Linked DNA regions of Homo sapiens: region 1 is linked to region 2. The links come from fine-mapping of genetic effects on gene expression. A gene starts in region 2. The other region holds a variant in brackets. All regions are shown on one strand. Distances are from middle to middle.

Region 1 (5,367 bases), 21 kb after region 2:
ACAAATTAGTCGGGCATGGTGGCACATGCCTATAATCCCAGCTACTCGGGAGGCTGAGGCAGGAGAATCACTTGAACCTGGGAGGCAGAGGTTGCGGTGAGCCAAGATTGTGCCATTGCACTCCAGCCTGGGCAACAAGAGTGAAACTCCGTCCCAAAAAATAAAATAAAATAAAATTAAATTAAAATTAAAACTGAGAAATCTTTTTTTTTTTTTTTTGAAATGGAGTCTTGCTCTGTCGCCAGGCTAGAGTGCAGTGGCATGGTCTCAGCTCACTGCAACCTCCCCCTCCTGGGTTCAAGCAATCCTCCTGCCTCAGCTTCCTGCATAGCTGGGATTACAGGCATGAGCCACCATGCCCAGCTTATTTTTGTAATTTTAGTAGAGACGGGGTTTCACCATGTTGGCCAGGATGGTCTCGATCTCCTGACCTCATGATCTGCCTGCCTCGGCCTCCCAAAGTGCTGGGATTACAGATGTGAGCCACCGTGCCCAGCCAAAACTGAGAAATCTTTAAAGATTTATTTATGAATTCATCTTATAACAATAAAAACTCATTACACATTAAGATAAATAACATTTTAATGAAAAATAAGTATAGTTTCCAAAGAAAAAATGTAATGATAGCCAGGCATGGTGGCTCATGCCTATAATCCCAATACTTTGGGAGGCCAAGGTGGGCGGGTCACTTAAGCCTAGGGATTTGAGACCAGCCTGGGCAACATAGCAAGATCCTGTCTCTACAGAAAATACAAAAGTTAGCTGGGCATGGTGGTGCATGCCTGTAGTCCCAGCTGCTTGGGAGGCTGAGGTGGGAGGGTCACTTGAGCCTGGGAGGTGGAGGTTGCAGTGAACGGAGATTGCACCACTGCACTGCGGCCTGGGCAACAGAGCGAGACCCTGTCTTAAAAAAACAAACAAAGAAACAACAAAAAAAAAACCAGCCAGGCGCGGTGGCTCACGCCTGTAATACCAGCACTTTGGGAGGCCAAGGCGGGCAGATCACAAGGTCAGGAGTTCGAGACCAGCCTGGCCAATATGGTGAAACCCCGTCTCTACTAGAAATACAAAAATTAGCTGGGCATGGTGGTCGCGCCTGTAGTCCCAGCTACTTGGGAGGCTGAGGCAGAAGAATTGCTTGAACCCGGGAGGCAGAGGTTGCAGTGAGCCGAGATCGTGCCACTGCACTCCAGCCTGGGTGACAGAGTGAGACTCCATCTCAAAAAAAAAAACAAAAAAAAAGCGTAATGAGAAAACTGGCATTATTTTGCTGTGTTGCACATCTCTTTAATGTCCAGCTTAATAGAAGACAGCTGGGTCCTCATGGAAGCTTCTGCTTTCAGTCTCTTGCAATATCACATGTCCTGGAGTTTTTGGAAAAGCCCATTGTACACTTATGAGAGTGAAAAAGCCATGTGAAATCACAGATCTCCTGAAAGGGTCTCTGGGGTCCCTGAGCCACACTTTAAGAACCGCTGCTCGCTTCCTTTCTTTCTTTTTTTTTCTTTCCTTTTCTTTCTCTGTCTCTCTTTCCCTTTCTTTCTTTCTTTCTTCCTTCCTTCCTCCCTTCCTTCCTTCTTTCCCTTCTCCTTCCTTCCTTCCTCCCTCTCTCTCTCTTTCTTTCTTTTCTTTCCCTTCTTCCCTTCCTCCCTTCCTTCTTCCCTCCCTCCCTCCCTCCCTTCCTTCCTTTCTTTCTTTTTATTTGTTTTTTGAAACAGGGTCTCACTCTGTTACCCAGGCTGGAGTGCAGTGGCGTGATCATAACTCACCACAGCCTCCATCTCCTGAGCTCAAGTGATCCTCTCATCTCAGCCTCCCAAGTAGCTGGGACTACAGCTGTTTTTTTCTTTTTTATGTTTGTAGAAACAGAGTTTTGCTATGTTGTCCAGGCTGGTCTGGAACTCCTGGGCTCAAGCTATCCTCTCTCCTTGGCTTCCCAAGGTGTTGAGATTACAGGCATGAGCCACCACACCTGGCCCTGAGAACTGCTGCTTTCTCTAGGTGGTAGTGAAGGTGGCACCCACTGCAAGGTGGCAGGTCACCTACTGGAGAATTCCAGTCCTGGGCCCAGGAGCTGGAAGTCTCACTCCGTCTTCTCTTTCCTCAGAACCGAAAAACCAAAGCTATATGGTAAGAGGCTGTGCAACCGCCTCAATGTGCCAACATGCCCACCTGGGTGACGCCTTCAGCATGAA[C/A]CACATTGATGTCTCCTGCTGTACTAAAAGTGGCTGTAACCACCCAGACCTGGATGTCCAGTACCGCAGTGGGGCTGCTCCTCAGCCTGGCCCTGCCCATCTCAGCCTCACCATCACCCTGCTAATGACTGCCAGACTGTGGGGAGGCACTCTCCTCTGGACCTAAACCTGAAATCCCCCTCTCTGCCCTGGCTGGATCCGGGGGACCCCTTTGCCCTTCCCTCGGCTCCCAGCCCTACAGACTTGCTGTGTGACCTCAGGCCAGTGTGCCGACCTCTCTGGGCCTCAGTTTTCCCAGCTATGAAAACAGCTATCTCACAAAGTTGTGTGAAGCAGAAGAGAAAAGCTGGAGGAAGGCCGTGGGCCAATGGGAGAGCTCTTGTTATTATTAATATTGTTGCCGCTGTTGTGTTGTTGTTATTAATTAATATTCATATTATTTATTTTATACTTACATAAAGATTTTGTACCAGTGGACAAGGCCAGGTATGCCCTTCTTTGTAGTGTCTATCTTTGGGAGGATAAATGGTGGGGGACACCTTTTCACAGGCTCCTGGAATCAGGGGTCATGTTTGAGGCCCCTGCCTAGGTTGGAAGTCCTCCTGGGGGCTGCCTCCACATCTATTTCTGGACTCCAAATGCTGACAGAGCAGGAGCACTGCCATCTTGAACAAACACCACCATTCTTAGTTCCTCTTGATTAAAAATCGGCTAAATCCGGACGTGGTGGCGGGTGCCTGTAGTCCCAGCTATTCGGGAGGCTGAGGCAGGAGAATGGCGTCAATCCGGGAGGTGGAGCTTGCAGTGAGCCGAGATTGCACCACTGCACTCCAGCCTGGGTGACAGAGCAAGACTCTGTCTCAAAAAAAAATCAGCTAAATCCAGCCCCAAAACATCAGCCTAATGGCTACCATCAGCATAACCAGAAACATTCCAACCCTAAGATAAACCCCTCTCTGACCAGAAACATGCCAACCCCCAGATAGCCTCCCTTCCGACCAGAGACTTTCCAACCCCACAATAAACTTTTCCTCACATGAAAACATTCCGAACCTAGATAAGCACCCCCTTCCAAAACTCTTAAATATCCTTAGTCTGTAAAAAAAAAAAAAAAAAAGGGCTCTCTAACCTAACTCAGCCAAAAGCCCCCCTCAGGTTGGTTTTCTCTAAAATAAACCTGTCCTTCACCGTCAAGCCACATTTCATGTTTCTTTCCTTTTCCTTTTTCTTTTCTTTTCTTTTCTTTTTTTGAGATGGAGTTTCACTCTTGTTGCCCAGGCTGGAGTGCAATGACACAATCTCAGCTCACCACAACCTCCACCTCCTAGTTCAAGGGATTCTCCTGCCTCAGCCTCCCAAGTAGCTGGGATTACAGGCATGCACCACCACACCCGGCTAATTTTGTATTTTTAGTAGAGACAGGGTTTCTCCATGTTGTTCAGGCTGGTCTCAAACTCCCAACCTCAGGTGATCTGCCCACCTTGGCCTCCCAAAGTGCTAGGATTACAGGCATGAGCCACCGTGCCTGGCCTCCTCTTTCTTTAATTCTTACAAATGCAAGCTTCCAGATCACACACTGAACACTAACCTTCTAGTCTTCTCCTAAACTTCAAAGGTTGCAACTATTTTGTTGTTCTAAGGAGACATCCCCACATTTCCCAGCATGCTTTGGGAAAGGAGACGGATAGAAGATAACCTGATGGCCAGAACTCCCTGCATGCACTGCAGTGAGGAATAAGGACAGGAGTGCACTTCCCCTGATGTGCTGGGGACCGGGGATAAAGGCTGGGCTCTATTTCCCGGGATGCCTCAGGACTGTCAGAAAAAGAGACAGAACTACCATTTCAATGGCACTCTAGGAGCACAATATTGAAAAATTCATGTTCTTCTCATCATTTGCTAAGGCAACCCATGGAGACAAAAATTACATTCCCCATCAAATCTTGTGGCTAATGAAGAAAAAATAAGATATCTTCGGCTGGCTGTGGTGGTTCACGCCTGTAATCCCAGCACTTTGGGAGGCCGAGGTGGGCAGATCACTTGAGGCAGGAGTTTGAGACCAGCCTGGCCAATTTGGCAAAACCCCGTCTCTACTAAAATTACAAAAATTAACCGGGTAAGGTGGTGGGTGCCTGTAACTCCAGCTACTCGGAAGGCTGAGGCAGGAGAATCGCTTGAACCCAGGAGGAGGAGGTTGTAGTGAGCCAAGATCACACCACTGCATGACACAGTGAGACTATCCCCAAAAAAAAAAAAAAAAAAAAAAAGACATCTTCCATGGTATTTGGGGGCAGGTGAGGGACAAGGTTCTTGTTTAGGGCTTTCTCTAATGACATATCACCACCTGTCACTGTAGTGGCTTAAAGAAGTGAGGTCTGTACTTCTGCCTCTTGAATATGAGTGACTCTGTGACTGCTTTGACCAGTAGAATGTGGTGGAAGTTTTGCTGTGCTATGTTCTGGAACCAAGTTTTAAGAAACTTTCATTTTTCACTTTCTGAATCTTAGAACGCTCACTCTGGGGAAGCTGGTTGCCATGTAAAAGTACTACTGCCCTGAGACCACCATGCTGTGAGGAAGCCCAAGCTACTCATGTATAAATGCCATGTGGAGATAGAGCCCCAGATGTTTCAGCCATCTCAGCCCAGGCACCAGACAAGTGGGTGAAGAAGCCACCTTGGACATGTAGCCCCAGCAGATGTGATATAGAGAAGAAACAGGAAACTTGGCTATATTAGTTTCCTAGGGCTGCCTGTGATAAATTATTACAAACTTTATAAACTAACACATTGTGTGCCTATATCAAAACATCATGGAAGGACAGGCACAGTGGCTCATGCCTGTAGTCCTAGCACTTTGGGAGGGTGAGAAAGGAAGATCTCTTGAGCTCAGGAGTTCAAGATCAGCCTGGGCAACACAGTGAGACCTCATCTCCACTAAAAATAAAAAAAAATTGGCTGGATGTGGTGGGGCATGCCTGTGGTCCTAGTTACATGGGAGGCTGAGGCAGGAGGATCCCTTGAGCCCGGGAGGTCAAGGCTGCAGTGAGCCATGATCCCACCACTGTACTCCAGCCTGGGCAACAGAGCCAGACTCTGTCTCCAAAAAAAAAACACTAAAACCCAAAACCATATTACATATGTCCTGTAAATATACACCACTATTATGTATTC
Region 2 (5,367 bases):
AGAATCTCATCAGGCTTCCACCTCAAGGCCTTTGCACTGGTTGTTCCTGCTCCTTGGAAAGGTTCCCTGCCCATCTGCCCTACTTCTTCCCTCACTGCATTCAGCCTCTGCTTGAATGCCACTTGCTCAGGGAACCCCTCCTGGATCACCCACCTAAAACAGCTCACACCTCATTTGCACCCAGATACTTCCTTCAGCCTGCTTTGTTTTCTCCAGTTTGCTTATCCCTCTCAGACAGTGAAAGATTAGATAACACATATCTGCTCCCCACTGTCAACACAACAAAAGGTGGGAACTTTGCTTTGCGTCCTGCTGTGCCCCTAGCTCCTGGACCAGTGCCCAGCACAAAGTAGGTCCTTGGTAGATGTTAAAGGAATGTGTTGAGCCCTCCATTTCGGCCAGCAGCTATTCCAGGCATTGCACCTACATTAAATTGCTCTGTTTAGTTAGATGCATCCTAAGACGGGGAGACAATTTTATCTTTAGTATTTTATTTTACTTAAAAAAAAAAAAAACTTGGCCAGGTGCAGTGGCTCATGCCTGTAATCCCAGCACTTTGGAAGGACAAGGCAGGTGGATCACCTGAGGTCAGGAGTTCGAGACCACCCTGACCAACATGGTGAAACCCCATCTCTACTAAAAATACAAAAATTAGCCGGGTGTGCTGGCGTGCCCCTGTAATCCCAGTTACTCAGGAGGCTGAGGCAGGAGAATTGCATGAACCCAGGAGGCGGAGATTGCAGTGGCCGAGATTGCACCACTGCACTCTAGCCTGGGTGACAGAGTGAGACTTCGTCTCAATAAATAAATAAATAAATAATAAAAAGAAAGAAAAAACTTATTATAAGCCTTTTCAAACCCACAGAAAAGGAGACAGAATGGCATAATATGCCCTTATATACTGATTACCTTTATATAATTGATACAACCATTTGGCTATTTTGCCTTTATTTTCTACTCAAGTATTTATTTATTTATTATTTTTTTGAGACAGGGTCTCGCTCTGTTGCCCAGGTTGGAGTGCAGTGGTGCAATCATAGCTCACTGCAGCTTCCAGTTCCCAGGTTCAAGCGGTCCTCCCACCTTAGCCTCCCAACTACCTAGGACTACAAGTACGGGCCACTGCACCCAGCTAATTTTATTTTATTTTTAATTTCTTTTGGAAAGATGAGGGCTCTTTATGTTTCCCAAGCTGATCTTGAACTCCTGGCCCCAAGTGATCCTCCTGCCTTGGCTTCCCAAAGCATTGGTGTTACAGGCATGAGCCACCTCATCTGACCTCTTCTAAAATATTATAAAATAAATACAGACATCAAAATGAAAACAAAAGAAAAAGAAAAAACAAAACAAAAATCCCCAAAACAACAACAACAAAAAATGCAGACATCAATAACATTCACCACTAAATACTCTAGTAAGCATCTGCAAAAACAAACAAACAAACAAAAACCAGAATCCCACCTAAGCATACAGCCATTGTCGTAACAGTGATATCTACTTTTTTGGCTGAAGTGTCTTTTTTTTTTTTTTTTTTTTTTTCTGTGAGAAGGAGTCTTGTTCTGTTGCCAGGCTGGAGTGCAGTGGCACGATCTCGGCTCACTGCAACCCAACCTCCGCCTCCCGGGTTCAAGCGATTCTCCTGCCTCAGCCTCCTAAGTAACACACACACGCCACTACGCCCGGCTAATTTTTGTATTTTTAGTAGAGACGGGGTTTCACCATTAAGTGTTTTAATGTAGGTGCAATGCCTGGAATAGCTGCTGGCCAAAATGGAGGGCTCAACACATTCCTTTAACATTTACCAAGGACCTACTTCGTGCTGGGCACTGGTCCAGGAGCTGGGGGCACAGCGGGAAGCAAAGCAAGGGTTAAGTGTTTTAAGTGTTTAAGAGATGCATATTTCAGGATGCATCTCTAGATAAGGACATTTTCCAAAATACCAGTATCCCTCCTGACAAAACTAACAAAAATCCTGTTAGCCAAATAATCAGCCACATTCATATTTACCGTCAAAGTTTTTATCCTCATTTTACAGCAGTGGAGAGCGATTGCCCCGGGTCCCACGTTAGGAAGAGAGAGAACTGGGATTTGCACCCAGGCAATCTGGGGACAGAGCTGTGATCACAACTCCATGAGTCAGGGCCGAGCCAGCCCCTTCACCACCAGCCGGCCGCGCCCCGGGAAGGGAAGTTTGTGGCGGAGGAGGTTCGTACGGGAGGAGGGGGAGGCGCCCACGCATCTGGGGCTGACTCGCTCTTTCGCAAAACGTCTGGGAGGAGTCCCTGGGGCCACAAAACTGCCTCCTTCCTGAGGCCAGAAGGAGAGAAGACGTGCAGGGACCCCGCGCACAGGAGCTGCCCTCGCGACATGGGTCACCCGCCGCTGCTGCCGCTGCTGCTGCTGCTCCACACCTGCGTCCCAGGTAGGGGCTGGGTCCCGAACGCCTGCGCCTGGAACAGGGTCTAATTGAGGGGGTTGGGGGTTGTCAGAGGATGAGTTGGAGGAATGCGGTTCAGTCCTCAGCATCCTCCCTAATCAAATAATAGTAATTCTCGTGCTTTGTGCAACGCCACGCGGCGCAGTACCTGGCACTCAGTAGCTAAGGAAATATTAGTGGAGCAAAGGCATTTAGCTTTACATAATTTAGTGAGTGCTTTTTTTTTTTTTTTTTTTTTTTTGACAGAGTCTCACTCTGTCGCCCAGGCTGGAGTGCAGTGGCGCGATCTCGGCTCACTGCAACCTCTGCCGCCCGGGTTCAAGCGATTCTCCTGCCTCAGCCTCCTGGGTAGCTGGGATTACAGGCGCCTGCCATCGCGCCCGGCTAATTTCTGTATTTTTAGTGGAGACCGGGTTTCACTCTGTTAGCCAGGATGGTCTCAATCTCCTGACCTCAGATGATCCACCTGCCTCGGCCTCCCAAACTGCTGGGATTACAGGCGTGAGCCACCGCGCCCGGCCCAAGTGTTCTTTTTTTAAATGGAGTTCTTCGAAGCCTCTTCCTTGCAATTTCAAACTAGGCGATGGGACTTTATTAATTTCGTTTCGCAGAGGAAACTAGGGCACAGAGAGGTTAGATAACTGGCCTAAAATCACACAGCCAGTGCTTGAATACGCAGGATCTGACCCTGCAGCGCCCCCCAGCGCTCTCCACGCTGCTGGGTCTCCCCCTCTGAGAAACGGGGGGACAGGACCCCCTTTTACAAAAGGCCCAAAGGGAGGCTGACTGAGCGGCGCAGAGCCAGTGCTGGAGACCCGGGACTGTCCCTCAGGACCTTTCCCTCTCACTGAGGCGACTCTCACTTACTTCCCCGGAAAATGTGGGGGGCTCTGGGTCGAGGAATTCGAGAAGGAACTGAGTCAGGGCGGGTGGCCACAGGGTGTTGGGGCCGCGATGAATAACCCGGAAAGCGCTCGAGACCGCGGGAGGCCGGGAATGAGTAACAGCTCCGGGATACTCCGAACGCGCAGCTGGAAAGGGATGTCCGGGAAGGCCCGGAGGTCGGGGACCGGGCCTAGGGACTGGGCTGCAATCTCGGGGCGGAGCCTGGGGCGGGGAGAGAGTGTCGGGGAGGAGCCAGAGGGCGGGGCTGGAACCTCAAGGAAGAGCTACGGGAGAGGTTACAGACCGAGGAAGAGCTAGGAGCGGGGCTAGAACCTCGAGGCGGAGCCAGAGGGCGGGGTTATAACCTCGAGGCGTAACCAGAGGGCGGAGTTATAACCTCGGGAGGAGCTAGAAGGTGGGACTAGACTCTTGAGGGGCAGGATTATAACCTCGGGGAGGAGCTAGAGGGCGGGGCTGGAACCTCAAGGAGGGGCTAGGGGCGGGGTTATAAGCTTGGGGAGGAGCTACGGGGCTGGGCTAGGACCTCAAGGGGCCAAGGGGCGGGGGTTACGACCTCGGGGAGGAGCTACAGGGTGGGGCTGAAACCTCAAGAAGGGACTGGGGCGGAGTTATGACCTCAGGGGAAAACTAGGGGCGGGGAGAGCTAAAGGGCGAAGTTAGAATCTCAAGGAGGAGCTAGAGGGAGGGACTAAAGCCTCGAGGAGGAGCTAGGGGCGGGGTTATGGCATCGGGGAGGAGCTAGGGGGCGGGAAGATAAGGTCAGGAAGAGCTAAAGGGCGGGGCTAGAACCTCGACGATGAGTCTGGAGCGGGGCCAAAACCTAGTTGGAGAGCTGGAGGGCGGAGACAGAACTTCGCGGGAAACTAGAGTATCTAACAATAGAAACTCCGGAGGGCTGATGGGGCCGGGCCTAGAATTTGGGAATAAATTAGTGGGCCGGGAGAGGCTCTGGAGCCGGGTAGAACCAGGGGGAGTGAGTGGAGGGATAGTTCCATTAGGGCACTGGGAGTGACGGTATAACATAAAGATCGACGCGGGTGGGGCAAGGCTAGAACGTCCCCAGCAGAACTGGAGAGGCGTAATCGACCGAGGGCCGGTGCGGTGAGAAAGACCTAATAGGAGCAGGAATAGAACGTACTGATAGAGAGGGCGGGGATACGACTGTCAGGATATACGCCTCACGAGGACAGAATGAAAGGAAAAACGGGCCAAGGCAGGACTTTGGGAAAGGACTTGTGGGCAGGGATAGAACGTTCAGTTAGTGGGGTGGAGGTAGAACGTGGACAACGGACAGACTGGAAGTACCGCCGGCCGGAACCCAGCAGAACATGGACACGAATCTGAATGGACGGGGCCTGGAGACTTGGTGTTGGTATTGGGACATGCAGGGGTGAGCGGGGGTCTTGGAGCTAAGCGTAGTTAACCTCTCCTCTCCTCTCCCTCCTTCCCCCAGCCTCTTGGGGCCTGCGGTGCATGCAGTGTAAGACCAACGGGGATTGCCGTGTGGAAGAGTGCGCCCTGGGACAGGACCTCTGCAGGACCACGATCGTGCGCTTGTGGGAAGGTGAGCTTCCCCCCAACCCACACACCCCTCCAGCGCAGCATGGAACGCGAGTGATTGAGAAACCTTCCTCACCAGTAACTGGGACATGCAAACTAAAAACAAACAAACAAGGAGAGCCCATTTCACACCCACCAGATTGGCAAGCATTTAAAAATCTGACAATACCCGGGTTAGTAAGGATGTGGAGTTGCAGACCGTGTCTGTGGTGGGGGAGTAAATTGGCACATCAACCACTTAGAGCGATTCGGCAATATCTAGTCCAGATGAAGATTAACATATGCTACAGCTCAACTCCTCGCCATGCAGAAATGCCAAAGAACCTTGGCCACATATACCCAGGGACACATGTATACGAATGTTCTTAGCAGCAATGTTTGTGACATGGAAAATTGGAAACAGGCTGGGCACTGGCTCACACCTGTATTTCCAGCACTTTGGGAGGCAGAGGCGGATGAATTGC

What was found.
Region 1: its variant is fine-mapped to the expression of PLAUR in whole blood (TOPMed, PIP 0.93).

Annotation. Positions count from the first base shown.
Region 1 is chr19:43,645,884-43,651,250 of GRCh38, reverse strand. It overlaps PLAUR (plasminogen activator, urokinase receptor), which reads left to right. Exons shown (of 7, transcript NM_002659.4): 7 at 2,108-2,672. The coding sequence ends at 2,361. Among named protein-coding and RNA genes, the nearest start is that of CADM4, 8.7 kb to the right of the region's middle. The variant C/A (reference allele first, on the strand shown) is at 2,196.
Region 2 is chr19:43,667,121-43,672,487 of GRCh38, reverse strand. PLAUR (plasminogen activator, urokinase receptor) reads left to right here and starts at 2,319. Exons shown (of 7, transcript NM_002659.4): 1 at 2,319-2,422; 2 at 4,797-4,907. The coding sequence starts at 2,368. It overlaps LOC124904724 (a long non-coding RNA gene), which reads right to left and starts at 3,724. Exons shown (of 3, transcript XR_007067264.1): 1 at 3,305-3,724; 2 at 2,008-2,462. RefSeq lists an enhancer at 2,251-2,550 and silencers at 3,471-3,550, 3,591-3,820.